7 linked regions of the Homo sapiens genome follow. The protein of the gene in region 5 purifies or fractionates together with the protein of the main gene of each other region. This does not show direct contact. Each region holds a gene or a part of one and is shown on either strand. Other genes may lie near its edges.

Region 1 (4,105 bases), on a different chromosome or scaffold from region 5:
CTCCTGCCTCAGCCGCCTGAGTAGCTGGGACTACAGGCGCTTGCCACCACGCCCAGCTAATTTTTTTATTTTTAGTAGAGATGGAGTTTCACCATGTTGGCCAGGCTGGTCTTGAACTCCTGACCTCAGGTGGTCCACTTGCCTCGGCCTTCCAAAGTGCTGGGATTACAGGTGTGAGCCACCGTGCCCAACTAGTATAACTTTTTTTTTTTTTTCGAGACTGAGTCTTGCTCTGTCATCTAGGCTGGAGTGCAATGGCACCATCTTGGCTCGCTGTAGCCTCTGCCTCCCAGGTTCAAGTGATTCTCATGCCTCAGCCTCCCGAGAAGCTGGGATTACAGGCACACGCCACCACACCCAGCTAATCTTTGTATTTTTAGTAGAGATGGGGTTTCACCATGTTGGCCAGGCTGGTCTTGAACTCCTGACCTAGTGATCCACCTGCCTTGGCCTCCCAAAGTGCTGGGATTACAGGCATGAGCCACCACACCTGGCAACATTTTATATACAATAAAAATAATAGATTTTTAACACCACATACAATTTGTGACCATTTTGAGCCAATGATTTGTTCATTTTTTGGAGATTAGGAGTAAAAGATTGCAGGTGGGGAGGTTAGGAAAGCTAATTCTCAATACTTTAATAACATACTTCTATATTTGTACCCATGTCATGCTATTGTGATTGCACATTTCTCTTTGGGAAGAGTAGTCTGGACTTTTGAAATCTTGGTGCTTTGATTCTAATATGCTTTCTCAGTATAATATCAAACCAAACACAAAGCCATCTTATGAGCAAAAGATAAGGAAAGAAAACACTGAAGAACTACAAGATGAAGTCTACACTGATGTCAGCAAATATTTTTAATATAGAGACAGCTGCATAACACCTTGATTTATCTGAGGTTACCCGCACCTGTACTTATACTACCTGGCTAAAATGTTCCATTGAAAAGTAAGCTAAGAACCTGCTCTTTTGAAATTCTGTAAAACAGAATTCAATAGACATTAAATAAGAAAACAGTCTCAGACTTTAGTCATTTTTGAGAAGGAATTCCAAGAAAGTGGGAGATGCTTGGTTTGTGTCTCTAATATCTGAAGAAAACAGATCTTTTGGCCCTTTAAACTAGTGACAAATTAAAACTTCGGTAGAGTAGTCTACAGAAACAGGGGCAATGATGCAATAAATGTTAAGCGATCATTTTGGTCAGGTGAGAAATTACTTTCATGAATGATCCCCTGAAGGCAGGAAGGACAGCTGCATATTTTTTTGTGAGCACCTGCAGTTACTAGTCTCAGGGGTGACTTGGTCATGATCAGAAATGATTATGGTTAATCATTGATGCCTCTTTCCACAATTGAAGTACATTTTAGAGTTTTTATATCCCAGGTAAATGTGTCTTTGAATAACTAAAGTTGTTACATGGTTTCAATAAATTACAAACCCCACACTGTTTTAGTTTCTAGGGCTTCTCAACCTCAGCATTGTTGACATTTTGGGCTAGATAATTCTTTGTTGTGGGGGTTGTCCTGTGCATTGTAGAATGTCTAGCAGCATCCCTAGCCTTTACCCACCGGATGCCAGTAACATTCCCCAGCTGTGACAACTGAAAAAGGCACATTTTCTGCCATAGGGGCAGAAAATCACCCCAAGTTGAGAGCCACTGAGTTAGCCAAAGAGAAGTCAGGTGAGAGACATTGTAATAAAATAATTTACATTGCTTCCCACCAACCTATAACCACAACGGTAACTCCTTAACATTTTTTGAACACTCACTTTGTCCTGGAAACTGTGCTAAGTGCTTCTCATAGATGTAATCTTCTCATCAGTTCCACAAAGCAGTTACTATTATTATTTCCATTTCACAAATGAGGAAGTTTAGCTTAATTAAGTGACCTGTCTAAACTCACACAGCATGTAAGAAGTGGTAGAGCTGATATTCAAACACAGGCTGTGCCTCCAACTCCAGCATACTTAACCACCTGTGAGAGGTTCATTTCTGTATGATCACACTCCTCACAGTCCCACCAGCTAAATCTGAATGGTCTGGGATCTAACGCTTCTTTATTAACTCTACTTAGTATACTCTTTTCCTCTAGGATTGGAAGGGGTGTGTGTGTGTGTGTGTGTGTGTTTTGTATCAGAAGAAACCAAAACCTTGATACGGAAACTACCCCGAAGGCACTGTGAACTATGTATATTATTGAAAGAATAGAACTGAGGTTATGCAACTAAATGACAGAATGGCCTGAGAGAGAAAAACAAGTGTGGTCACCTTAGCAGAGTGTTTTGAAGAGCAGAGAACTGGAACATAATCATGAGACTTGGGCAAACTTTCTCACTCTGGCCCATAGTTCAGAAATAATTGTACTCCCCTACATTTCAGTAGGTTTTAAGTGTTTCCAAGGTAGTTGCTCAAACATGCTGTCAACCCTTTGGAAGGGATGTCCTGGAGAAACACTTAATAAACCATTCTCCACTTCCAGGGCTGGAAATCAAAATGTGTGCACACACCCCTCCCGCAGGCAAATGTGAAGCTGGTGTTCCTTGAGCTTTTGGAGTTTCAAAATTCAGCTGGAGTTCTTGGACTATGCGAAGACATTCTTTTAATTCTGTGGTAGAGCAATCTTCTTAACTGCTGCTCTACCAATTATTACCTCTGTGCTCAGTCCAGCAATCATACTCTATGAAATCCTTTAAAAACCTAAAAATACTTTATTAGCAATTAGGATTTTTGCAGTAGTAGTGGTAATTGTAATAGAAAGACATCCAAGATAATAACAATTCCTGGCCAGGCACAGTGGCTCATGCCTATAATCCCAGCACTTTGGGAGGCTGAGGCAGGCGGATCATGAGGTCAGGAGATCAAGACTATCCTGGCCAACATGGTGAAACCCCATCTCTACTAAAAATACAAAAATTAGCTGGGTGTGGTGGCGCATGCCTGTAGTCCCAGCTACTCGGGAGACTGAGGCAGGAGAATCACTTGAACCTGGGAGGCAGAGGTTGCAGTAAGCCGAGATCGTGCCACTGCACTTCAGCCTGGTGACAGAGTGAGACTCCGTCTCAAAATAAATAAATAAAAATAAAAAAAAATAATAATTCCTTACATTTGCACAACCCTCCATGGTTTGTAGAATTTTCCCCTGCTACCTCTTTTAATTATTACATCCCCGTCTGAGGACAGGTTGGCACTACTGCTGCACTGAGCAAGTAAGAAAACTATATGATCAAAGAGATCATGTAGCTGTCCAGATCTCCTAATTCTCATGATAGTTGGCCCACTGTTTCCCCATCATACTACAATCACTTCACACTTTTAAATCATAGGTAACTGTTTTTAAAAGGACTTTTGGTTTGGTGCCCCCATGAATGAACCTGCTCCACTGAATCTGCTAAACAAATCTGGCATGTGGCTTAGGGTGTGGAGAACCTGGTGAGTACAGTCGAGGCTATATCCAGTGGAAAATGTAAAGATATACAAAAGTGGAGTTTTTTTTTTTTTTTTTTTGAGATGGAGTCCTGCTCTTGTTGCCCAGGCTGGAGTGCAATGGCATGATCTTGGCTCACTGCAACCTCTGCCTCCCAGGTTCAAGTGATTTTCCTGCCTCACCCTCCCAAGTAGCTGGGATTACAAGCACCTGCCACCACGCCTGGCTAATTTTTGTATTTTTAGTAGAGACGGGGTTTCGCCATGTTGGCCAGGCTGGTCTCGAACTCCCGACCTCAGGTGATCCACTCGCCTTGGCCTCCCAAAGTGTTGGGATTACAGGCGTGAGCCACTGTGCCCAGCCTAAAAGTGGAGATTTTTATCATGAGCCCACCACTGTCTCCAACAATTATCAACTTGTATGTGGCTAGTCTTGTTTCTTTTATATCCTCATCACTCTTAGATATTATATCATGTTCTATTGCTCTTTGCATAAATTAAAGGTCCTTACAAGGGCTCACAAGATCTTACCTGATCTGGTCCCTACCCACCTTGATATTCTCACCTTGATGTCCTCAGCTTACCCACATGGGCCCTCCTGCTGTTACATCCAATATACTAAATTTGCTGAAGCCTCAGGGCCTTTGCTCTTGATGTCCTGTCTGCTTTGAATGT
Region 2 (4,105 bases), on a different chromosome or scaffold from region 5:
GATGGTACTTGCAGGATGAGATGGGGGGATGGTACTCACTTGCAGGGTGAGATGATACTTGCAGGGTGAGATGGGGGATGGTACTTGCAGGGTGAGATGGGGGATGGTACTTGCAAGGTGAGATGGGGGATGGTACTCACTTGCAGGGTGAGATGGGGGATGGTACTTGCAGGGTGAGATGGGGGATGGTACTCAATTGCAGGGTGAGATGGGGGATGGTACTTGCAGGGTGAGGTGGGGGATGATACTTGCAGGGTGAGATGGGGATGGTACTTGCAGGGTGAGATAGGGGATGGTACTTGCAGGCTGAGGTGGGGGATGGTACTTGCAGGCTGAGGTGGGGGATGGTACTTGCAGGGTGAAGTGGGTGATGGTACTTGCAGGGTAAGATGGGGGATGGTACTCGCACTTACAGGGCTAGATGGGGGATGATACTTGCAGGGTGAGATGAGGGGGTGGTACTTGCAGGGTGAGATGAGATGGTACTTGCAGGGTGAAATGCAGGGATGGTACTCACTTGCAGGGTGAGATGGGATGGTAGTTACAGGGTGAGATGGGGAGATGGTACTTGCAGGGTGAGATGGGGGATGGTACTTGCAGGGTGAAATGGGATGGTACTTGCAGGGTGAGATGGGATGGTACTCACTTGAGGGTTGAGATGTGGGGGATGGTACTTGCTGGGTGAGATGGGATGGTACTTGCCAGGTGAGATGGGGGATGGTACTTGCAGGGTGAGATGGGGGGATGGTACTCACTTGCAGGGTGAGATGGGGGGATGGTACTCACTTGCAGGGTGAGATGGGGTGATGGTAGGCACACTCATCCCCATTTTTACAAGCAGGCCAGTACTTGCAGCGCTCCAAAAGTTTTTCTGGTTTCTGTGCCACACTCAGTTCACTCATCTCAGCTACAAAGGGAAAGGAAATAAAAGTATTTCATTCATTATGATCAATTCAGTACACAGCACCTTTAACATATTTCCCTCAAACCTGTCTTAGAATCTTCTGTTAAATGTACAGTCATATAAAATAAGTGAGCTCAAATTATGGGATTAACACTGGCCATAGAATCCTATAAAAGGTTGCCAGGAAGAAGACAACAGTTCTCACTGTGAAAAGGAAAGAGGACAGTGACTCTGCAACTACGGCCAAATTTTTCACCAAAAATTCTAATTCTCAATACTAATTCATAGCTGAATTAAAAATAGAGAAGGACGTCAAGTGGGGAACTAATAAAATTAAATAAAAACTGAAAACAGGTAAGGTGATAAGGAGATGTGAATCCTCACACGCCAGCAAGATGATGAGTGGCCCAAATACAAAAGGATTCCCACCTGCTGAGCTGTAAGTCCAGGTGCGAAACTCAGCAATGTCTTTTACTTTTTTTTTTTTTTTTTTTTTTTACGACAGGGTCCTGCTCTGTCACCCAGGATGGAGTACAGTGGTGTGCCAGTGGTGTAATCTCGGCTCACTGCAACCTCTGCCTCCCAGGCTCAAGTGATACTCCCACCTCAGCCCCTACCAAGTAGCACGTGCCACCACGCCTGGCTACAGGGTTTCCCCACGTTGCCCAGGCTGGTCTTGAACTCCAGGACTTAAGCGATCCACCCACCTCGGCCTCCCAAAGTGCTGGGATTATAGGCATGAGCCACCGCGCTCAGCCAGCAATGTCTAAAAAGGGGAAAACATTTTTACCTACAATGGGGTCACAAATGCCATCACTTACAGAGACTGGGCAGTTCCCCTAACAGCAAGACTGACTGGGCTGAAGATGATAAATGCAATAAGGGACAGACGGGGAGCAGCAGCCTGGAAAGCAAGTGCACACCCATCCACTCCACTCCCTGTGCCACATCCAATCACAGCTTCGATTACTATGACAGGGCAAAGTGGGACCCCTGTTGCCAGATTTTTATCCTGTTTCAGTAAGCCAAAAATCTGCCTTCATCGAAATTGTAATGCTGGCAATTTATTAAATAACACTGAATAAGTAAAATTACAGCTACAGGCAATAATCAGCTGCTAATTTCTGGACTGAGACACCTTAAACTCCCCACAAAATAGCATCATGGGTATTATGTATTATGGTTCACATTCATGTTCATGAAAGCAAGTATCACTTCAACTGTATTCCTCTAGTCCTCTTGCCAGAGGTCAGTTAAAATCTGACTCTGCCACTTAGTTGCTCAGCCAGACACTCTGTGCAAATGTTAGCTAACTTTTTGGAATTCTGTTTCCTCATCTATACAAAGAGAAAATAATGTCTTCCTTAGAGTCTGATGATTAAACGGAAAAAATGCAAAACAGGCAACCAGTCGTAATAGCAGCAGCAGCTAGTTCTATGAGTACTTACTGTTCCAGTGACCCACATTCTGTCCTCACTACAGGAGAACAAGGCACACAAATGTAGTCATGCAGCCCAGATAGGAGCAGCATCAAAGAGCAATTATGACTATGCCTGATACAAACAGTTTTCTATGCTACTTTAAAAATAGTAAAAGTCCTATTTAAGCTTTAAATAGGATGTGGTGGCTCATGCCTGTAACCCCAGCACTTTGGGAGGCCGAGGCGGGCAGATCACTTGAGCTCAGGAGTTTCAGACCAGCCTGGGCAACATGGTGAAACCCCATCTCTACAAAAAATACAAAAAATTAGCCAGGCATGGTGGTGTGCACCTGTAGTAACCAACTACTCAGGAGGCTGAGGTGGGAGAATCACTTGAGCCTGGGAGGTGGAGGCTGCAGTGAGCCATGACTGTGCCAATGCACTCCAGCCTGGGCAACAGGAGGGATACCCTTTCTAAAAACAAAACAGTATAAGTCATTTTAGTTCTAAGATACAAGAATAATCGGTTCCAAAGAAAATGTGAGATGACTGGAAGTTTCTCTAATTTTTACAGGTTTTTTGTGTCATCCCCGCAAAGTAAATGTGTCTTACCCTTTTCCTATAATAAATTACACACAGCAGACTATAATATATACACAAGAACCCAGTACAAATAAAAGATTAAGAGAATACCCAAGAGAAGCCTAGCTGGAAAGCAAAGTAGCTAGATACTCAGGAACAATATAATACTTTACAAAGAAATGTGATTATTACAATAATACCTTACAAAGAAACTTTATCTTTCTTTTAAAAACATTAAGTCATACGAAGGTCATGCCCCTAGTCTTCACTGGCTGACACCGACTTTGTAAACTATTAAAACTTTCTGTTCAAATTTTAAGAGGCAAATTCACCTTTTATTGAAAGCTATAGGCCAGGCACGGTGGCTCACACCTGTAATCCCAGAACTTTGGGAGGCCGAGGTTGGTGGATCACTTGAGGTCAGGAGTTGGAGATTAGCCTGACCAACATGGTAAAACCCCGTCTCTACTTAAACTACAAAATTAGCCAGGTGTGATGGTGCATGCCTGTAATCCCAGCTACTTGGGAGACTGAGGCAGAAGAATGGCTTTCAACCTGGAAGGCAGAAGTTGCAGTGAGCTGAGATGGCTCCATTGCACTCCAGCCTGGGGGACAGAGAGACTCTATCTCAAAAAAAAAAAAAACAAAGAAAGCAAGCTATAAAATCTGTGCTGCCATATGACAGTGAGTGAAAAGACAGCAGGTTAAAACAGATGTTGTTGTTGGTAGCATCCTTGAAACAACCCAACATAAAACCAACCAGAAGCAATTGCAGTTTCAAACTCCCTGCTCACAGGGGAAGTGGTGCAGAGACTAGAGACTCCTGAGAACTGTTCTGCAGGAGTCTCTCCAGCCACACCCCTATGCTAATCTTACAAAGCTTCATCCTTGAGCAGCAGGGAAACACTGAGTCCCCAGTCAAAGCAATGGGAAAGGAGGCTCACCACTCATCATGGCTGTCAGCACAATGGCCACAGCACTGGCAAGAATTTTTACTAACATATTATTTATGGTGTCACTGCTGCTACATGTATACCCCATAAAGCCTCATATGGACACCTACATTTAAATGAAACCAGATCCTAATAGACCAAAAAATTAAGGTACCAAATTGAAAATCAAGAGTAGTGAAAACACTGGAGTCTTCTCTTTAGACAAAACATACAGAGTCAATAAATCGGGACTGCCTACTGCAGCTT
Region 3 (4,105 bases), on a different chromosome or scaffold from region 5:
GGACCGCACACCTGCCCGAGGGAACCGCCGAGACCTACCTGCACGATAGTGGGGTTGTCTCCTGAGCCTATCAGATACCGGGGGTTGCTCCAGATAAGGTCAGAAAAGGTGTCCTCCTCTCCCTTCTCCACAGCTTTCCGAAGCTTGGCGGTGAGGTCCTGCGTGCGGGGATTTTTGTAACTGTTCGCTCGCTCTTTGTTGACTGTTTCTGATTCCGACAAGCACAAACCATCTGTCAGTAAGAGACAGAATTTAAGAACAATCAGTTTCACCAAAAGTCACTCATCACCCATGCACCCTCTGATGAGGGATAAGCAGCTTTCCACAGAGGCTTCTGGGCCAACTGGGAGGCACAGGTGAGAAAAGACGAGAAGGGCCCACGGCCACCGGCCCCAGCATGCAACGCAATCAATGGCAGCCAGCGTGCCCGTCAGCAGAGCAAGTGAGGGAGAGCAGCCAGACCCGGCCACAATCTCACTGGGGGCCCCAGCCTACAACGGCAGCCAGCGCGCCCCCATGAGCACAGCAAGTGGAAGAGCAGCCAGACCCTGCCACAATCTTGCTGGGAAAGGCTCTGTGAATGAGGCCAAGTTTGGTGAACTTTGTGTTTTTTCAGAGACAGGGTCTGGCTCTGTTACCCAGGCTGGAGTGTGGTGGCACGAATATAGCTCACTGCAGCCTCGACCTCCTGGGCTCAAGTGATCTCAGGCCCTCAAGTAGCTGGGACTACAGTTGTATGCCAACACGCCTGGCTTATATACATATATATATATATATATATATACACACGTATTTTTAGAGATGAGGTCTATGTTGCCCAGGCTGGTCTCAAACTCCTGGCTTCAAGGGATCCTTCTGCCTCAGCCCCCAAAAGTGTTGTAATTACAGGGACGAGTCACCACACCCGGCCAGTGAACTCTGAAAGCTCGGTCAGTAGGTGGAGGAGGAATAACGGCAGCAGCGGGCAAGGGAACACTCCCAGAAATCACGCAAGACCTTCGATGTGCACAGTGTGGCTGCAAAGGATTACAGGATTAAGGAGCCTGCCACCACGCCCAGCTGATTTTTTTGGGGGGGACGCAGTTTTGCTCTTTCGCCCAGGCTGGAGTGCAGTGGCGCGATCTCAGCTCACTGCAACCTCCGCCTTCCAGTTTCAAGCAATTCTCCTGCCTCAGCCTCCCAAGTAGCTGGGATTACAGGCACCTGCCACCACGGCCAGCTAATTTTCGTATTTTTAATAGAGACGGGGTTTCACCATGTAGGCCAGGCTGGTCTCAAACTCCTGACCTGAGATGATCCACCCGCCTCAGCCTCCCAAAGTGCTGGGATCACAGGCGTGAGCCACCTCGCCCGGCCTGATTTCTGTCTTAAGGTGATTTCCTTCTGAGGAATCCTCACAAATTGCAAAGAAGGAAATCCGTACCTGTTAGAAGCCACTCTGGTTTCCATCCAGGAAGCACCTGTATAAGGCTGACTGAGGGCAGGCGGATGACTGGAAGGAGAGGGCAACATTCCTCTGGAGTACCAGCCCGCCAGGGAAGCCCAGACAACTGTGAGCTGCGAGAGGGAGCAGGAACTGAGGCCAGATGAAAGGTAAAGGCGGAGGTTCTACCCCACACTGACCGTGAAGAGCCTCTTCACACAAAACCCTAGTTCTGAGCTGGGAGGTGGGCATGGGTCAGACTTCGGGCTGGACCGCTCCTACAGATAAGCCCGCCTTCTCCAGATGCCCTAGTCCTTGAAGTAGGTATAGCTTCAGGTGGGGAAGTAGACTGGTTTCAGGATCCAAAAAGGCGCAGGGGCTCACGCCTGTCATCCCAGCACTTTGGGAGGCTGAGATGGGAGGATCACTTGATGCCAGCAATTCAACCAGCCTTGGCAACATGGCAAGACCCTGTCTCCATAAAAAAAGTTTAAATTCTAGCCTGGCCAACATGGTGGCTAAAAATACAAACATTAGCCGGGTGTGGCAGTGTGCACCTGTAATCCCAGCTACTCGGGAGGCTGAGGCAGGAGAATCGCTTGAACCCGGGAGGTGGAGCTTGCAGTGAGCCAAGATCGCACCACTGCACTCCAGCCTGGGCGACAGAGCAAGACTCCATCTCAAAAAAAAAAAAAAAAAAAAGAAAAAGTTTAAATTAGCTGGGTGTGGTGGTGCACGCCTATTTCTCAGCTACTTGGGAGGCTAAAGCAGGTGGATTGCTTAAGCCCAGGAGTTTGAGGCTGCAGTGGGCCATGATAGCACCAGACTGCACTCCAGGCTGGCAAAAGAACAAGACCCTGTCTCTTTACAAAAAAAAAAGAAAAAAATCCAACAGACACGGGGACAGATGGAAGCGGCCACAGCGTTCTTTTCAGCTTCTCCAGAGTCAAGATGCTAATTACACGAGCATCAGAGCCAGCATGGCCTCCTGGTCCACTGAGACCCCATCGACTCTACCCTCATGGAGAAAACAAGTTACCACATCAGAGGAAAGAAGGCACAAAACAGGGTGGGATCAATGTGACAGGAACATCAAGATGTGAACGGCTGCATGATTTACCTTTCAACCTGTCATTGCTAAAGAGTGGAGCTGTTTTCACAGGAGACAGTGGTAAGGACGTTTTGCTTGGAGAAGGGAAATAATCACAAATTCCTCTAGCAAATTTCTCAGCGTCTTCTCTGGTAGAAAAAGCTTTAAATCGGGACCCTTTGATCATCTTGACAGCTTGCAATGCTTCCTTTTTATTTTCATAAACATAGATCCTTTCTGGGTAAGAAAAGTAACAAATGAAAATCAGAGAAGAGTGACTGGAGAGCTGTCACCTGGCCATGCCCTGGGCCTAACCATCAGCTTCCACATCTGCTACCCAGTCGCCTGGCTTAGTTCAGATCTTTAATCCTGAAGAAAAAGGGCCTAAGCTAGCCAAAATAGAACAATTAACAAGCTCGACAGTGTGCATATATGCATGTAACATGATATATATTATGTTCATATATGTAATTCTATATGCCAAGATTCTATCCTAAAAACTAAATTTCATATAAAGATCTAAATAAAAATTATTAAAAGGCAAATTAAAAAAAAAAACTATAATTATGTCAGCCAAGAACATAAGAGAATTTTAAACACAATTTTGAACAGGGAACGCCTTTTTATTTTTTACTTTATTTTTTTTTTTGGAGACGGAGTCTCGCTCTGTCGCTCAAGCTCAAGTGCAGTGGCACGATCTTGGCTCTTGCAACCTCTGCCTCCCAGGTTCAAGCGATTCTCCCGCCTCAGCCTCCCGAGTAGCTGGGATTATGGGCATCCGCCACCATGCCTAATTTTTTGTATTTTTAGTAGAGACGGGGTTTCATCATGTTGGCCAGGCTGGTCTCAAACTCCTGACCTCAGGTGATCTGTCCGCCTCGGCCTCCCAGAGTGCTGGGATTACAGGTGTCAGCCACGGCGCCCAGCCGGGAATGGCTGTTTTTTTTTGACATGGAGTCTCACTCAGCTGCCGAGGCTGGAGTGCAGTGGTGTGATCTTGGCTCACTGCGACCATCATCTCCCAGGTCCAAGCGATTCTCCCGTCTCAGCCTCCCGTGTAGCTGGGATTATAGGCACCGGCCACCATGCCTGGCTAATTGTTGTATTTTTAGTAGAGACGGGGTTTCACCATGTTGGCCAGGCTAGTCTTGAACTCCTGACCTTAGGTGACCTGCCCACCTCAGCCTCCCAAAGTGCTGGGATTACAGGCATGAGCCACTGTACCCGGCTGGGAATGCCTTTTTAAACATGCCAAGAAACCATTCAAAACAAGATAATCCTGATTATATAAAAATATTAAAGCTCTGTAGTGGAACTATCACAATTAAGTTTTGTATGAGACTATCGTAAATACATAAGATATACACTACTGGCCAGGAGACAAAAATTTATGAACAATGTAACAGACGAATGGTTACTGTCCACTACTGGATAAAAATAGCCATAGTTCGGGCACGGTGGCTCACGCCTGTAATCCCAGCACTTTGGGAGGCTGAGGCAGGTGGATCACCTGACGTTGAGAGTTTGAGACCAGCCTGACCAACGTGGAGAAACCCTGTCTCTACTAAAAATATAAAATTAGCCGGGCGTGG
Region 4 (4,105 bases), on a different chromosome or scaffold from region 5:
AAAATTGTATTCGTCTCTTTATTGGTCTAGAAAGGGGTGGAGACTTGGAATGGTGAGGCCTGGGCCCATGTGGGAGTGGGGTGTGCACAGGTCAGCAGGTCAGCAGAGGAGTGGGGCTGGGCTGGGGCTGCAGGAGCGATTCTCCCAGGGCCAGGAGAGCCAGTGAGGGTGGTCCGCACTCCGATGGGACACAGTATGGCCAGGCCAGGCGGAGCAACCCCTCCTCAGTGCTGGGTCATCTGTGAAAGGGACACGGAGTGGGCAGTGATCCCCAGGCCCTGGTCCCGCACAGCCCGGTCTCCCCCACAGCGCCTTCCCCCTCTCACCTTGGCCGGGCTCGGGGGGTATCTGACCTTCAGGCCTTCATCATTCATCAGAGGCCTCACCAGGCAAGAGCGGCGGTGAGAGAAAGTCTCGAAGCTCTTCTTGCCATGGTAGGATCCCATGCCGCTGTTCCCTGCGGAGGAGAAGTAAGCACAGGGCTCAGCATCCTGCCCCCAGGACGCCCCAGGTTTCCCTCTCCACCTTGTTGGGTGTATCCCAGAACCACAGGGACAGGGAGGCAGAGCCCCAGCCACCATCACCCATCCTTCCCTCAAATCCTATGGCCCTCAGCACCCAGCCCCAGGTTGTGGCCCTTTTCTGGGCCTCCTGAGGGTGGCCAATGTCTAGGGTGTCCCCAGGGCATCCACACTGTGGGAGTGCCCAGCAAGGGTCTAATCCCAGCTCTGCCACTAAATGGCTGTGTGACCTCTGGCCTGGGTCACCTTTCTCAGGCCTCCATGAAATAGGCCGGTGCACCAGGTGACCTCTAGGAACCTCTAGGCTCCCAGGTTAAGTGTGTCTGATGGATGGCACGCAGAGGCCAAGGTCCAAATGGAAGAGGCTAATGGGAGGCTGCCGCCCGGGCTGCAGGAGGTGGTCCCTCCTGAATTTGCTGGGTGAGTGTGCCCAGCCCTGGGGCCCAGAGGGAGGCAGCAAGCTCAGCCCCAGACTCACCCACGCCCCCGAAGGGCAGAGAGTGCAAGGTGATGTGGACGATGACATCGTTGGCCGCCACCCCACCACTGGATGTCTCTGCAATCATCTTCTTAATCACCTGCACCAGGACCCAGCCACTGGCCTCAGTCTCCTGCCCACAGGATGCCCCAGCCCCCAACCCGACCCTGCCTGGGTATAGCCTGGAGCCACAAGGACAGGAGCAGGTGGAGGCAGAGCCTTAGCCTCCATCTCCTGCTCTTCCTGCAGACCGCGTGGCTGTCAGCACCACATGAGCAAAGAGTGACAGCAGCCGCCCCCATGCCTGTGTGCAGGGCCCTGGGCAAGGATCGCTCATTCAGTGCCCTCAGGTGATGCTGCTGTCCTGATCTTACAGACGAGGTGAAAGGAGCTCAGAAAGATCCAGTGACTTGCCCAAGGTCACACAGCCAGAGAACAGTGAAGCTGCAGTTTGAACCCAGGTCTGTGGGCCCCAGGACCCTGGCAGAGGGCACCCCAGGCCCACCACCCACCTTGTCGTTGCTGGAGAACATGTAGAGGGCCAGGGGCTTCTCACGCTGGTTGATGAACTGGATGGCCTCCTCCAGGCTGCGCACGCACACGATGGGCAGCACAGGCCCGAAGATCTCCTCTTGCATCACCGGGGACTGGGGGTCCACGTCCGTGAGGATGGTGGGGGCTGAGGCAGGAAACAAGCCAGAGTTGGACGGCGCAGAGACCCCCACGCGGATGGAAAGTGCAAGCACCTAGACCCCTGCTCCAACCCTTTTCCAGGCAAACCTGCCCAGGCTTGGAAAAGGGCAGGGACGAGGCCTCAGAGAGGTACCCTAGGCACCTGCGTCCTGGATGCCATCTGAGCAGACCACTGGGGACAACTATAGGTTAACCTGTACGGAAGGACCCGAGATCTGTCTCCAGGAGCAGGCACTGCACCTGCCGGCCACCTGATGCCCTGCCAGAATTCTCTTGTCTCCTTGACAAACTCGGGGCCAAGAGGGTCCCATCTGGTGACCCACAGCCTGGGCACTGGGGGCCCCTCACGGCTGGGCACACCTGGGGCTCCTGTGGCTTCTGCTGTCCCTGCTCCTGCTGCTTCAGAGGGGCAGGGAGATGAGGCCCCTCTTTCTGGGCCTTTGCTGGGAGAGGGGATTCTGAGGTTGAAGCAGGGGCTGTCCTCAGCCCCTGCCTGCTGGAGTCTACCGCAGGCTCCCTGGTGAAAGCAATTTATACCCATCCCGAGGTCGTGTCCGCTTATCAAGCATCTGTGCCCACTTGCTGTGAACTTGCTGGGGACCCCTGCAGCCTGGGCAGGTGGGCTGTGCTCTTCAGGGGTCACGCACCTATGTAGCGAGTGGCGGCATCCCCGGTGCCCCCATAAGCCACCTTCTGGCCCTCAATCAGGCCCATCACCCTCTGGAAGTGCCGGGCACTAATGATTCTTCCATAGTCCCGGGATTTCTTAGCATCTTCCCCGTAGAACTCCTGTGGAGAAGAGGTGGGGGCTTCGGGTAAGGACGCAGAGCCTCGTCCTGCCCAAAGGCTGCACAGACACAGGCCAGCAGTGTCTGTCTTTGGGTGGTGGGATTCTGGGTGGAGCTTTTTTCTTCTTTATGCTTTTTAATCTTTTCTAAATAATCTATAGTGAGTGTGCATTATCTTTTTTTTTTCTCTTAGAGACAGGGTCTTGTTCTGTTGCCCAGGCTGGAGTGCAGTGGTGCAATCATAGCTCACTGCAGCCTCAAACTCCTGGGCCCAAGCAATGCTCCAGCCTCGCCGTAGCCTTCTAAGTAGCTGAGACAACAGGCATGCACCACCATGCCACCATGCTTGGCTAATTTAAAAACATATTTTGTAAAGATGGGATCTTGCTATGTTACCCAGGCTGGTCTCAAACTTCTGGCCTCAAGTGATCCTCCACTCTCTACCTCCCAAAGTGCTGGGATTACCGGTGTGAGCCACCATGCCTAGCTTGCATTATGTTTATATTAGAAGAAAATAAATCCAGTGTTTCCAAATCTGTAGAAGTTGGTTAAGGGGCCAGGCCCCCCTTGTGCCTTACAGCCTCTCATCCCACCCTGCCAAGGGGTCAACACTCACTTTCAGTGACTTCTTGAGCTTCTCCACAATTTGGTTCTGGATCGAGGGGTCACAGAGGATGTAGTCAGGGGCCACGCAGGTCTGGCCACTGTTCATGAATTTCCCCCAGGCGATGCGTCTGTGAGAATCCCAGACTGGACTAAATCCAAAAGGTTCCCCAGGAGTTGCATCTCGTTTTGCAGACCCCTGAGCTCTCTGGTCAGCAGAAGCCATCGGCTGTGACCTTGCCACCAGTGAGTCCTCCCAAGCGGTCTGCTCACTTCTAGACACTGGACCGAGCAGACCCAATGGCCCTGATCATGTTCACCGGCGACTGGTGGGGAATTTCTAGAGGACGTCTGTTGAGGGCAACCTCCGTGCTCCCTGATCACGCCCTTGTCCTGCACAGCCAGGTGTCACTGCTACTCGGGCCCCCCTACATCTCTGGGGCCACAGATGTGGGATATGGAGGTGGTCAGAGCCCTGGCTAGGGTCAGGAGGTGCAGATACGGGTTCTGCCCCAGACCCCGAGCAGCGGTGGCCCTTCTCCCCTCTGGGCCTGCTCTCCAGAACTCAGATTGCCCTGCCCCATCAGAGGGCTGAACCCAGTACAGTTCCTTGTGTCCTGAACGTCCCACAGCTGCTTTTTCTGCAGCCTCTGCTTGGAGTACCACTTCCCCAGTGATGCGCACTCAGCAAACAGAGCTCAGCCTAGACCTCTCCCCCTCCAGGAAGCCTTCTGGGACTCCCCACACGTCTTCTGTGCATGTGGTCCCCACCCCTACCCCCATGTAAGTTTCTGCAAGGACCACTGCTCCATGAGGCAGGGGGTGTCTGTGTTACTCAGAGTGGACCCACAGCATGAGGTGCAGTCATGTGTGCTTGGAAAGCAGAGTAAGGACTGCTGCAGCCAGCAGGCCCGTGCCTCTCACCGGCAGGCCACGTCCAGGTCACAGTTCTTGTCCACGTAGCAGGGACTCTTCCCTCCCAGCTCCAGCGTGACAGGGGTCAGGTGCTTGGCAGCAGCCGT
Region 5 (4,105 bases):
TTATTAGCAAATGAAAGCTGATATGCAAAGATTAAATCACAAGGACACAATGAAACGGAGGGATTCCAACTCCTCTATTAAATTTTCAGCTCAGATACTAAAATCTAAAATTCATTTTACAACACTATGTTAACTGCTTTTCTCCACAGACTAATAACAGCATACATTGAGAAATCATTTTCTGAACTCATAATTTGGTCAACTGATTTGAAAATATTTGTCATTTATCTTCTGAGACCTTAACTATGCCTTTTATAATAAAAACCAACAAAAAAAACCAGTAAGGCTATGTTTTCTAATTTTAAAAGAAATTGGTAGTGTATTCATTATGCTCATAAAAATAAAGTATTTCAAAATTGTTATATTAGGCAAAAGATCATTTACTAAAAGCTACTGAGACATTATCTGCGAGTATGGAATAACCATCTTTAGCTAGTGAGAAATTTTTTATTAAAAATGTGTAACACTTGGCTTAATTTCATTTCATTTTTTACTTCTATCTGTGCATCCAATATGTAAGAAACTAAGATCAATCACAGACACTCAATAAAGACCTTTTTGGGTCACAAACAGTACTCATTAAACAAATGCAAATTATGGTCCTGGGGAAAAGAGCTTCTTACCTTTCGAATAACTTGTTGCTGTTGTGCATGCTTTGCTCGTAATTCTGACACCTCCTTCCAAAGGGACTCATTCTCACTATGTTATAATTTATTAAGCAACAAAACAAAAAAAAAATCAATCAAAAAACCAGACCATAGTATCTTTAATTAAGAATACCAGACAACTGAACTACACTTGTTTTTACTATATGTATTTATGAGACCAAGAAAACTTTGGTTCAATTACATAGGAATGACAACTACCTTGACACAACTCCTGAATCATTCTTTTTTTAAAAAAAAGGTGTAGCTTTGCTCTGTCGCCCAGGCTGAAGTGCAGTGGTACGATCTCGGCTCATTGCAACCTTCACCTCCAGGGTTCAAGCAATTCTCGTGCCTCAGCTTCCTAAGTAGCTGGGATTACAGGCATGTGCCACCACAACCAGCTAATTTTTTTTGTATTTTTAGTAGAAACGGGGTTTTGCCATGTTGGCCAGGCTGATCTCAAACTCCTGACCTCAGGTGATCCACCCACCTCGGCCTCCCAAAGTGCTGCGATTACAGGCATGAGCCACCGCACCCAGCACCAGAATCATTCCTTCCTAAGTGTAGTATCTGCTACTCATGACAATAGATACACAGAAACTTAAGACATATGCCTACATCAATATAGTAGTTGGCAATTTACTACTTTTGACAATCTGGCTCATTATTTTTTGCTTAAAAAAAAATAAGCTAATCTTTCAACTGTGGTTACCAAGTGAATTCAGGCCTTCCTAATCACCTTAGGAAATAAAGGGTAGTGATATATACCCAGCACTTACTATACTCTAAGCACTATGCTAGACATTTTATGTGTATTACTTATTTAAAATTTCTCTAAAAACCACCAAGAAATAAGTCATCATCTCTATTTTATAGATGAGGACACTGAGGTACAGAGAATTGAGGGGAACTGCTCAAGATCATACAAATAATTTGGTAAGTGTTGAAATCAAACTAAAGTCTGTCAGATTCTAAAACTATCTTAAGATCTATCTCAAACAACAGCATATGTAAACCACTAAAATGTTATTCTGAAAAAGCATATCCAATAATAAACTAATAACTTGCCAAATATGAATAGCTTCTTCTTCGTTCACCTTTTTTAATTGAAACTGCATTATGTTGTTAAATGTTCGCAGCACGGAGAATGCTGAATACCTATTAAATGCTTTAATTTTCCATCTTTTGTTATTCTCCACAAGTCATCTTCTTTAATCCAAACTAATATAAAAGGAACTGGAGATTTACATATAAGGGTATACCAAAGGAGATTTTAATATTTACTGAATAACTACTGTATTTTTCTGATTCAAATTAAAAAATGTTGTTATCTGCTTACTAAATAAAGATAAGTAGGGCTGGGTGCGGTGGCTCGTGCCTGTAATTCCAGCACTTTGAAAGGCCGATGTGGGCGGATCACTTGAGGTCAGGAGTTTGAGAACAGCCTGGCCAACACAGTGAAACCCCATCTCTACTAAAAATACAAAAATTAGCTGGCACATGCCTGTAATCCCAGCTACTAGGGAGGCTGAGGCACAAGAATCGCTTGAACCGGCAGGCGGAGATTGCAGTGAGGTAAGATCAAGTCACTGCACTCCAGACTGGGTAACAGAGTGAGACTGTCTCAAAACAAAAACAAACAAACAAAAAGATAAGGAGAAGAAAGTTCCCTCTAAGGTACAAAAAATGATTTGGGGATCACTTTCTTTAAAGGCTGAAACTGTGGTCCCAAGGAACTGGGTCAAAGAGCAGCTAGTATACACAAGATACATACAGTAAACAAGTTGTTAAATACACAAGAAGAGAAAGCCTAAAGCTTATTTAAAAAAGAAATCAAAGTTATAGGTTCCTCTTTTAATGAAGATATTTGAGTTATGATTAACTAAAGTAACGTCTCACATCTGATATGGAAGAGAGAATATGTAAAGTAACCACTCTTAAGCCCTTGGCACCTATTAGGATACAGAAAAATTCCAGCTACTTACTAAGAAGAGTAATACACTATCTACTCTATACACAAGTTATTAGTATGGCAAGTTACAATAATGGTAACCAAGAAATGTAGTAAAATAAAACGAAGCATCTTTCTGTAGATAAAAGCTCTGAATAACACTTTTCCAAGTCTATACGAAATAAGTATCAAGCATGGCAACTCTCCTGCATCGTTTTCCGATTTTTTTGTGTCCTACTTTTTCCTAAGAGTCCACACAAAGAAATCTTAAGAGACAGCCATTAAACAAAGGATGGGTAACATACAGGGTTTTTATGTCGTATGCCCTCATTGTCTATGAGCACCATATGAGCTAACCTAAATAGAATCATATTTCCTACATCATCTTAAAGACCTACTGTTTATTGCTAAGACTTATACATCAAACTGTTTTGATACGCTTAGGTTTATATCTTCTTCTGACTATCATAATTAAAACAATATTAGAGTAAAGTCAGTGGCCACAAATCAAAGTAAAGGGAACCAATACTTGCAGAAAAATGACCTTTGATCTTGGCTTCAACAAAGTGATCTGAGTACTTACAATAAAACATCAGACAACCTCCAAACTCAACACACATAGACACATACCCAATTCCCAGATTAAAATTATATTTGGAAATAACACTTTACCTTTTTAATTCAGAAAGCCTGGACTCAATAGTTTCCTGTTTTATCTGAACCTTCTGAGCACTACTTATAATTTTTGTTAAATCTTCCTGACGAATTTTATTTTCTTCTGGTTTTGAAGATGAAACCTTTGAAAAAGTAAATTTAGAAAATCAAAGAAACAGTAAACACCCATGATTGTAATTCAAAGCTTCCCTATTAGAAGAGGTTTTCGTAGCCTGTTCAGGAAGTGAGATCTGGTTCCAAAAGCCCGGGATGAAATGCTAGGGAAAGAATAAACTTCAGAGCTCAATGGGAGAGAACGCAAGGAATAATCTACTTAAAAAAAATTTTTTTTTAATGTTAAAAAGTTTCCGCAAGCAGGAATATCTTAGAGTCTTTTATTCTCCCCTTATGCCAAGCTCCTTGCAATTTCCCCCAAGCCTCTTTATTACCACATTCCACATTTAATTAAATTTATGCAGTAAAAGGTTCATGCTAGGCCATTTTCTTTCATGGTCCACCCCTTTTACAGATTTAGTAAAATATCTTATTTTACCAAAAGATATTATGCATTAAAAAATATATTACTGAATGTATTTCTGAATGCCTACTATGTGGGCATATTTATATTATTAGAAGAGACTTATTGTAGGTACTGGATGTACAATTACAAACTATAGAAAAAGTCTTCCAGGGAGCTCATATTCTAGCAGGAACTTAAACTTTTTTTTTTTTTTAAGCTAACTTAGGAAAAAAATACAGGGAAACAAGTAAAACTTTATTATCCTAATTCATCCCAACAAGGAACAGTTGTGCATTTCTGTACTTTCAACAGCTGAAATAAAAATCTTGGCCA
Region 6 (4,105 bases), on a different chromosome or scaffold from region 5:
TAGAGAAAGATCTTGTGTGTGCTGCGGTTGGAAACAAGACAAGTCAGGGAAAGAAGATAGTGTTGACGTTGGATGTTGTATTATATTTATATCTTTAGTGTTTGGGGTTTGTGTTGAAATCCATCTCTCTCCTACTTTTTATTTTAAGAAGTCATGCTGGCTGAGGTGCAGTGGCTCACTCCTGTAATCCCAGTGCTTTGGGAGGCCAAGGCAGAGGGATTTCTTTAGGTCAAGGGTTCAAGACCAGCCTGGACAACATAGCAAGATCCTGTCTGTACAAAAAAATTTTTAATTAGCTGGGTGTGCAGCACTTTGGGAGGCCGAGGTGGGTGGATCACCTGATGCTAGGAGTTCAAGACCAGCCTGGTGAAACCGTGTCTCTACTAAAAATACAAAAATTAGCCAAGCATGGTGGTGGATGCCTGCAATCCCAGCTACTTGGGAGGCTGAGGCAGGAGAATTGCATGAACCCAGGAGACGGAGGTTGCAGTGAGCAAAGAACACACCATTACACTCCAGCCTGAGTGACAGAGTGAGACTCTGTCTCAAAAAAAAAAAAAAAAATTAGTTGAGTGTGGTGATGCATACCTGTAGTCCCAGCTAGTCGGAAGGCTGAAGCAGGTGTATCGCTTGAGCCCAGGAGTTCAAGGCTGCAGAGCGAGACCCTGTCTATTTTTTTTATTTTTTATAGACAGAGCTTTCCTCTTGTTGCCCAGGCTGGAGTGCAATGGTGCGATCTCGGCTCACTGCAACCTCTGCCTCCTGGGTTCAAGTGATTCTCTTGCCTCAGACTCCCGAGTAGCTGGGATTACAAGTATGCACCACCATGCCTGGCTTTTTTTTTTTTTTTTTTTTTTGTATTTTTAGTAGAGACGGGGTTTCACCATGTTAGCCAGGCTGGTCTTGAACTCCTGACCTCAGGTCATCCACCTGCCTTGGCCTCCCAATGTGCTGGGATTACAGGCATGACCCTGTCTCTATTAAAAAAAAAAAAAAAAAAAGCCATACTGGGAAGCCACATGTTCTATATAGTTATTCCACATGTTCTCTCTACTTTTTGTCTTCTAAACTTTCTCTATCCTTCTACTGTGCTGCTCACGTTTCCCAACTCTATCACGGCATACACGTCCTGAAGAGCTAGACTTTACAAAGAAAGATAAGTACAAAAGTGAAAGAATGGGTTGGATGTCATAGCTGGGGCATATTTGCTGATGACCCAAATTATGTTGTTTCCCTTCCTTTCCAGGCTGACCTGATCCCCAAGTTATACCTTTCCCTTCCCCAGGTTTCCCTTGGCTTCTCCCCCTCCCAGCAGCTTCCAGGAGCAGAAGTGGAGCTGCAGCTGCAGGCAGCTCCCGGATCCCTGTGTGCGCTCCGGGCGGTGGATGAGAGTGTCTTACTGCTTAGGCCAGACAGAGAGCTGAGCAACCGCTCTGTGAGTAACTGTCTGCTGACAGAGTGGGAGGAGGGAGTTGATGGAGAAGACAATTAAGAGGTAGGTTTCAGGCAGGGGAGAGAAAGTCTTAGGGAAATAATGCACTGCCATAAGGCGGTAAAAAGGCTGGTGTGAAAATGAAGTTAGAAAGTGTAAGAGGGCTGGGCACGGTGGCTCACGCCTGTAATCCCAGTGCTTTGTGAGGCCGAGGCTGGCAGATCACCTGAGGTCGGGAGTTCGAGACCAGCCTGACCAACATGGAGAAACTCTGTCTCTACTAAAAATCCAGAAAAAAAAAAAAAAAATTAACTGGGCATGGGCCCATGCCTGTAATCCTGGGGAGGCTGAGGCAGGAGAATCACTTGAACCTGGGAGGCGGAGGTTGTATCATTGCCCTCCAGCCTGGGCAACAAGAGCAAAACTCTGTCTCAAAAACAAAAAAAAAAAAACAAAAACAAAAAAAGAAAGGATAAGAGAAAGGCATGGTTAGTATGAATGCAGAGACAAGAAAAGAGAATGAGCCTGTAATCCCAGAACTTTAGGAGACCAAGGCAGGCAGATCACCTGAGGTCTGGGGTTCAAGACCAGCCTGACCAACATGGTGAAACCCTGTCTCTACTAAAAATACAAAAATTAGCCAGGCATGGTGGCGCATGCCTGTAATCCCAACTACTCAGGAGGCTGAGGCAGGAGAATTGCGTGAACCCGGGAGGCAGAGGTTGCAGTGAGCCGAGATCGTCCCACTGCACTTCAATCTGGGCGACAGAGCAAGACTCCGTCTCAAAAAAAAAACAAGAAAGAGAACGAAATAGGGGATAGGATTATGAAAAAATAGGTGAGATAGAGGTTAAAGTTTTAGACAGTGAGAAAGGTAATTATGACAGAATGAATATAAAAATAATTCTGAAGTAATAAAGAGAAATGATACAGGAGTAGTGAACTGAGCACCAGAATCTGAGAGAAGTTTCTCAACTGATATCACTATATCAATGCTTTATTTCCTCTCCCCCTCTTGTCCCAGGTCTATGGGATGTTTCCATTCTGGTATGGTCACTACCCCTATCAAGTGGCTGAGTATGATCAGTGTCCAGTGTCTGGCCCATGGGACTTTCCTCAGCCCCTCATTGACCCAATGCCCCAAGGGCATTCGAGCCAGCGTTCCATTATCTGGAGGCCCTCGTTCTCTGAAGGCACGGACCTTTTCAGCTTTTTCCGGGTAGGTCTTCTTACCCATTTTGTTCTTATGGGAAAGATGGTGGTGGGAATGGGCAAAGGAAAGTTCATATCTAAGAAAGCAGAGAGACTCATATGGGCACTGATGGGAACAAAATCTTGAAAGAAGCTTCTGACGTGTAAGGTCGCCTCTGTTGGCCCTTATGCTTGAAGAAGATGTCCAACCTAGTCTTCCTCTTTTTGTTGTCCTCAAACACTGATTTCCATGAGATCAATCAGGAGGGAAAATTAGAGAAGGTAGACCAGAGGTCTCTTATCATTATTATAAAAAATAATTTGCACCTATTCTATGAGCAGGATTTGGGATGCTGTGTGACCCAAGTCTGACCAGGAGGTCCCTGAGGTCAGGAACTAGGTCTTGTTCATCTTTGTATTCTCTCTAATGCCTGACCCTTCATAAGGCTCATTGTATTTTTGTTGAATTGAGTACGCTGATATGGTCCCTACCCTCAGCATGTTTACAGCGTAAGTCAAATAGTAAGGACATAGCGAATAATATTTGGCAGAACCATTACATGTATGTAATGATGAAATAAGTTTAACTGAAAGCCTTTCATGCTAGCTGGAACAGAAGCCAACCAGCCTCAGTGGCTGAGTTTCAGGTAAGAACACCCAGGTTCACCATTAATTCAAAAAGAATGTTTTGTTTCAACTCTTTGATGGTGGAATTCCTGGGCAGTAGCCCTTGTAGTTGGGGAAGGGACCACCTTAATACTTATTTCTCTGATGCCTATCAGGACGTGGGCCTGAAAATACTGTCCAATGCCAAAATCAAGAAGCCAGTAGATTGCAGTCACAGATCTCCAGAATACAGCACTGCTATGGGTGGTAAGCCACCTCTGTGGTCTGTGGATTCTCTGAGATGTTAACAGTCCTGGAACTCTGCAGATTTCCTCTTGCCTCCTGTTCTTGCACTGAGCCTCTAGCCCGAGAATGCTAATGGGTTGTGGGTCACAGATGCAGGACAGTTTCCCAAGTGTTCTCTCTCTGGGGAGAGCTTTTGAAGCCTGAAGCTTATGTATCCATTCCCCGGCCAAACCTCCTTGGCTATCACTTCCCTCGATGGCCTTTGTGACTAGTTAGTTCCTCTTTGGTCCTTCCTCCTTGCCTCTGACTGGATGTTCTCTGCTTCCCTCTAAATTTCTTTCTAGTAATCCCTCCATCCCAATTTATGTCACAACAAGAAGTCTCCTGTTTCCTAAAGTTTTCGTATTCTCAATTTCATCAGCAGGCGGTGGTCATCCAGAGGCTTTTGAGTCATCAACTCCTTTACATCAAGCAGAGGATTCTCAGGTCCGCCAGTACTTCCCAGAGACCTGGCTCTGGGATCTGTTTCCTATTGGGTAAGTGATGACTCAAAAGTACAGTAAAGGGCCAGGTGCATGGCTCACGCCTGTAATCCCAACACTTTGGGAGGCTTAGGAGGGAGGATCACTT
Region 7 (4,105 bases), about 81 Mb from region 5:
TTAAATGTTTATTAATAATTATCCCCACTGGACAGCCTGAGGGGTAAAGTAGATGCTCTATTAGTTCTTCTCTATCTTGTAAGTTCTTTTTTTCTAGAATAATAAATATAGGATTCAATGAAAGATGAGGCACGATTCATAGTTTCCTTTCCTTTTTACTCTCCTTGGTTTTTTTGAGTTAATGGGCTTTTCTATTGCCACAAAAAGTCATTACTAATCATGCCGACTTAAAAACGTGGATCTTGAGAGTACAGCTTCACATCAGAGCCTCTGGCAGCATGGACAGCGGTGACACTTTAAAACAGTGTCCAGGAGAGGGTGAGCCCAGGCAAAGCTTATACAAAGAAGCCTGCAGTAGACAATATAAACCAAACAGCATAAAAAATGCCATACGCTATCGCTTCCAAATAAAAGCTAAATATTACAGAAACCTCACAGTGTTGGAAAAAGCAAGTTTAATTTAAAATATAGTCACTCCTTCCCTATCAGGGTGAGCCATTTTTTGTCTGAATTTCCTCCATGTCTCAGTGCTGCCTGGCAGGGCCTATGGGAGAGTTCATCTCAAAAGAGGTCAACAGCAAATGCTACAGATCTGTGTGGGAAATGTGGCTCATCAACATTGCTAAAGCTATAACCCTCATTCTTTAGCCTGGCTTTCCCCACTTCCCACTCCTCCCCGAACGCCCTTCCACATCTACTCCCTTCAAGTGACAACTGTACTTCTACCTGAATTCAAACATTAATATGATATACTCAGTCAAAAGATGAGCATTCATAGTGACAGGTTGAGTGAGGCTCACTGCAGTGACCACAGCAACAAAAGTTAGGGTTTGCATTCACTTTCACCAGCAAATCTAAGTGAAGAACTAAGAATGAAGTGGTGCCTGATGGGGACAAGGGTTTTTATCTGGGCAATTTCATTCTGTTTAGAAACTGACCCAATTTAAAAAGGAAGATGTATTTTACTAGCACTGGGGGAAAGGACGGGGCACTCTTGTTTTTTTCTCTGATGGACTGAGTATGGGGGGTAAAGCAACAGTAGGGATTATCAGATTTGGGAGGAAACAGGTCAAGGCCATTGGTAATCAACTCTTCAGATATGTACGAGGTGGACTCCTAAGCAGTTAACATACCCTAGAGAACCAAAAGCTCCCAAACCCTGTGAACATGAATGTTCTAGCTCTCCAGGAGCAAGAAAGAAGCTGCAGGCTAAGAAGCTGCATGCCGCACTGAAGTGAGAACGGGTGACAGGCCTTCAATAAGCCCTGGAGCATCAGCTATCTCTGCCCACCCTCAATTGAGTTCTGAGAAAACCTAAGAATCAATTTAAACCAAACCATGTGCTTGCCCTAGACCTGAACCAGGGATCTGCTACAGAACTGAGATAGCCAGGAGTGTCCTTTGGCTCAGCATGGAACATGTGCTAGTCTATTGCTTCTTTATATGACCTGCCCCTTCTTTAGAATGAAGGGGTATTCATGCCAGTCTCAGAAGTATGGAATGATTATATGACAGCAGCAAGTAGGGAGGGTATGACATATGAAAACCATCCCACTTTGCATGGGGAAATTTGTTCCATGCATCTCACTCCACTCTTCAGCTGCTATCCCCAAAAAAGGAAGTTTGTTTTAAACCCTTGAAGGTTACTTCCTTTGTGGGAATAAACCCTTTAGACTTCATCTCCCATCTTGGAGCCAATCCCATCCAGCAAACTGCTAGCCCAGGGCCCCTCCTCACGTGCTCTGTCCAGGACTGCTCACATCCGGAGGGTTCTTCTGGTGCTGCAAGGAGGTCCTGATTAGCAGGGGAATCACATCATGGAGAGAAAACATGGCTGCTCTCCTGTGTGGATATGATTGATTTACCCCCCCGCCCCGCTTTCCTCCACCCAGATCCCTCTATATTCAGAAGCAACTGATGAAAGGATCTTCATAGAAGTTACTTCTTTTGTTTTTAGGAAAGGAGGGAACTCCCAAACTCATTCAAAAGAAAGAGACTATAAAATTTACGACAGGACACGAATCACCTGGCACCTTCTACTCTAGACCCAGCAAGGCAAACCTAGTAATCTGTTCCTGCAGTAGCCTTATTTCCTATAAGAGGAAAGATGTATGGACACCAATACACAAAAGCCAGTCTTTGATACATGCCTCCCATTCAGGAAAATGTCTGTGGTCTGCCTTCATCATTGTTGCTGGACTGCACCTGAGCTTGGAGATGGGTTTCTGAGATTCTTGCATTGCCCTGCACTGTTCTTTGAGTGTAAAAAAGGATGTAGGCCTGGGTTTTGCACACTTCCTCGACACTGCATACATTCAGCTTTGAGTCATTGCAGTGGACCCAAAAACCTAGGAAACCAAAGGAGAAAAAGAGAGAAAATGACTACCCAATTCATATTTTAGTCAGCAGGCAAAATCAGGAGATGAAGAAAGGGACAGAGAAGTTCTGAATAGAGCCAACCCTCGATTATTGGTGGGGAAGGGACAGGTAAATGAAACTGACAGACTTTTGTGTATCCACTGGCTTTAACCCCACCAAGCCCCACGGTACTGCTTATCGACTGACTGCAATTTTTTTTTTTTTTTTTTTTTTGAGACAGAGTCTCGCTCTGTCACCCAGGCTGGAGTGCAGTGGTGGGTTCTCGGCTCACTGCAAGCTCCACCTCCCAGGTTCACGCCATTCTCCTGCCATTCTCCTGCCTCAGCCTCTCGAGTAGCTGGGACTACAGGTGCCCACCACCACGCCCGGCTAATTCTTTGTATTTTTAGTAGAGACGGGGCTTCACCATGTTAGCCAGGATGGTCTCGACCTCCTGACCTCGTGATCCGCCCGCCTCGGCCTCCCAGAGTGCTGGGATTACAGGCGTGAGCCACCGCACCCAGCCGACTGACTGCAATTTTTATCTTTGTTTTCTTCAGGCTTTTTCATTGTCCACTAGGGCCTTCTAGAAAGAGCTGCGATACTGCAGGCTAAGCAATGGGGAGATGAGGAGGAAGAGGAGGAGGAGAGGAGAAATGGAAATAGAGGGGAGTGATGAAGGAAAATTTAGAAGGAACAAAAAAGTATTTATTCACAAGCTCTGGCTGCCCCAAGGGCTGTGCAGTTCAAGAAGAGTGAACAGCTGAAAACACATCTGCAGCCCATCAGTCAGTGCAGTAGCTGGAAGACTCCACTCTGGAGGATGAGGACCTAAAGCTCCTTTGGAGGGGCCCTTGCATCCCCACACTTCCCATGGCAGGGGAAGTAGTAAGAACATAGTAAGTGCTCAGTAAATGTTCTCGGCTTTATTATAAGCTGCGGCTAGTGAGATTCATACAATATCTCCTTGAGGTTACACAGGTTCTACTGTTTCTGCATAACCAAGAAGGAAACTGGGGTGTGCAGAAGTAGCATTACCACAAAACAGTAATATTATCAATAACCAATACTTTTGATAATACTACAATATCCTCTAACACTGACTGAATAAGTACTATGTGGTAGGCAACTGCTCTTCTTATTTATTTATTTGAGTCAGGATCTCACTCTGTTGCCCAGGCTAGAATGCAGTGGTGAAATCATAGCTCATTGCAACTTCAAACTCCTGGGCTTGAGCAATTCTCCCACCTCAGCCTCCCAAGTAGCTAGGATCACAGGTGCACACCATTACACCTGGATAATTTTTAAATTTTTTGTAGAGATGCAGTCTCGCTATGTTGCCCAGGCTAGTCTTGAACCCTCGGCCTCAAGCAATCCTCCCGCCTCTGCCTCCCAAAGTGTTGGAATTACAGGTGTGAGCCATTGCACAGGGCCTAGGTCCTGTTCTAAGCACTTTTACATGTCAGTTCCTTTTAATTCTTAGAACAACCATATGTTGTTACTTAGTAATATACCCAAAATTTGAATCCAACTTTCATAATTCTTTTTATTTTTTTTGAGATAAGAGTCTTGCTCTGTCACCCAGGCTGAAGTGCAGTGGCATAATCTTGGCTCACTGCAACCTCTGCCTCCCAGGTTCAAGCGATTCTCCTGCCTCAGCCTCTTGAGTACCTGGGATTACCAGTGCCCACCACCACGCCCGGCTAATTTTTGTACTATTTTAGTAGAGACGGGGTTTAACCATGTT

Evidence for each region.
Region 1: the proteins of HSF2 (region 5) and ACP3 purify together in Homo sapiens (affinity purification with mass spectrometry; one large-scale study listed by BioGRID and IntAct). This does not show direct contact.
Region 2: the proteins of HSF2 (region 5) and ZC3H14 purify together in Homo sapiens (affinity purification with mass spectrometry; one large-scale study listed by BioGRID and IntAct). This does not show direct contact.
Region 3: the proteins of HSF2 (region 5) and ANKLE2 purify together in Homo sapiens (affinity purification with mass spectrometry; one large-scale study listed by BioGRID and IntAct). This does not show direct contact.
Region 4: the proteins of HSF2 (region 5) and ALDH3A1 purify together in Homo sapiens (affinity purification with mass spectrometry; one large-scale study listed by BioGRID and IntAct). This does not show direct contact.
Region 6: the proteins of HSF2 (region 5) and A2ML1 purify together in Homo sapiens (affinity purification with mass spectrometry; one large-scale study listed by BioGRID and IntAct). This does not show direct contact.
Region 7: the proteins of HSF2 (region 5) and USP49 purify together in Homo sapiens (affinity purification with a luminescence readout; one large-scale study listed by IntAct). This does not show direct contact.

The regions. Positions count from the first base shown.
Region 1 is NC_000003.12:132,323,625-132,327,729, reverse strand, and holds part of ACP3 (prostatic acid phosphatase isoform PAP precursor), read right to left. Parts: intron 1-4,105. UniProt on the Homo sapiens protein: A non-specific tyrosine phosphatase that dephosphorylates a diverse number of substrates under acidic conditions (pH 4-6) including alkyl, aryl, and acyl orthophosphate monoesters and phosphorylated proteins.
Region 2 is NC_000014.9:88,604,045-88,608,149, reverse strand, and holds part of ZC3H14 (zinc finger CCCH domain-containing protein 14), read right to left. Parts: intron 908-4,105; coding exon 787-907; intron 1-786. UniProt on the Homo sapiens protein: RNA-binding protein involved in the biogenesis of circular RNAs (circRNAs), which are produced by back-splicing circularization of pre-mRNAs.
Region 3 is NC_000012.12:132,748,100-132,752,204, forward strand, and holds part of ANKLE2 (ankyrin repeat and LEM domain-containing protein 2), read right to left. Parts: intron 2,751-4,105; coding exon 2,544-2,750; intron 233-2,543; coding exon 39-232; intron 1-38. UniProt on the Homo sapiens protein: Involved in mitotic nuclear envelope reassembly by promoting dephosphorylation of BAF/BANF1 during mitotic exit.
Region 4 is NC_000017.11:19,737,997-19,742,101, forward strand, and holds part of ALDH3A1 (aldehyde dehydrogenase, dimeric NADP-preferring), read right to left. Parts: coding exon 4,008-4,105; intron 3,215-4,007; coding exon 3,097-3,214; intron 2,482-3,096; coding exon 2,340-2,481; intron 1,679-2,339; coding exon 1,512-1,678; intron 1,100-1,511; coding exon 1,000-1,099; intron 458-999; coding exon 327-457; intron 240-326; coding exon 225-239; 3' UTR 1-224. UniProt on the Homo sapiens protein: ALDHs play a major role in the detoxification of alcohol-derived acetaldehyde. They are involved in the metabolism of corticosteroids, biogenic amines, neurotransmitters, and lipid peroxidation.
Region 5 is NC_000006.12:122,412,815-122,416,919, reverse strand, and holds part of HSF2 (heat shock factor protein 2), read right to left. Parts: intron 3,396-4,105; coding exon 3,271-3,395; intron 700-3,270; coding exon 624-699; intron 1-623. UniProt on the Homo sapiens protein: DNA-binding protein that specifically binds heat shock promoter elements (HSE) and activates transcription. In higher eukaryotes, HSF is unable to bind to the HSE unless the cells are heat shocked.
Region 6 is NC_000012.12:8,846,264-8,850,368, forward strand, and holds part of A2ML1 (alpha-2-macroglobulin-like protein 1 isoform 1 precursor), read left to right. Parts: intron 1-1,246; coding exon of another isoform or gene 1,247-1,285; coding exon 1,286-1,435; intron 1,436-2,456; coding exon 2,457-2,651; intron 2,652-3,405; coding exon 3,406-3,496; intron 3,497-3,896; coding exon 3,897-4,011; intron 4,012-4,105. UniProt on the Homo sapiens protein: Is able to inhibit all four classes of proteinases by a unique 'trapping' mechanism. This protein has a peptide stretch, called the 'bait region' which contains specific cleavage sites for different proteinases.
Region 7 is NC_000006.12:41,794,376-41,798,480, forward strand, and holds part of USP49 (ubiquitin carboxyl-terminal hydrolase 49), read right to left. Parts: exon of another isoform or gene 3,270-4,105; intron 2,349-3,269; coding exon 2,158-2,348; 3' UTR 1-2,157. UniProt on the Homo sapiens protein: Deubiquitinase that plays a role in several cellular processes including transcriptional regulation, cell cycle progression or innate immunity.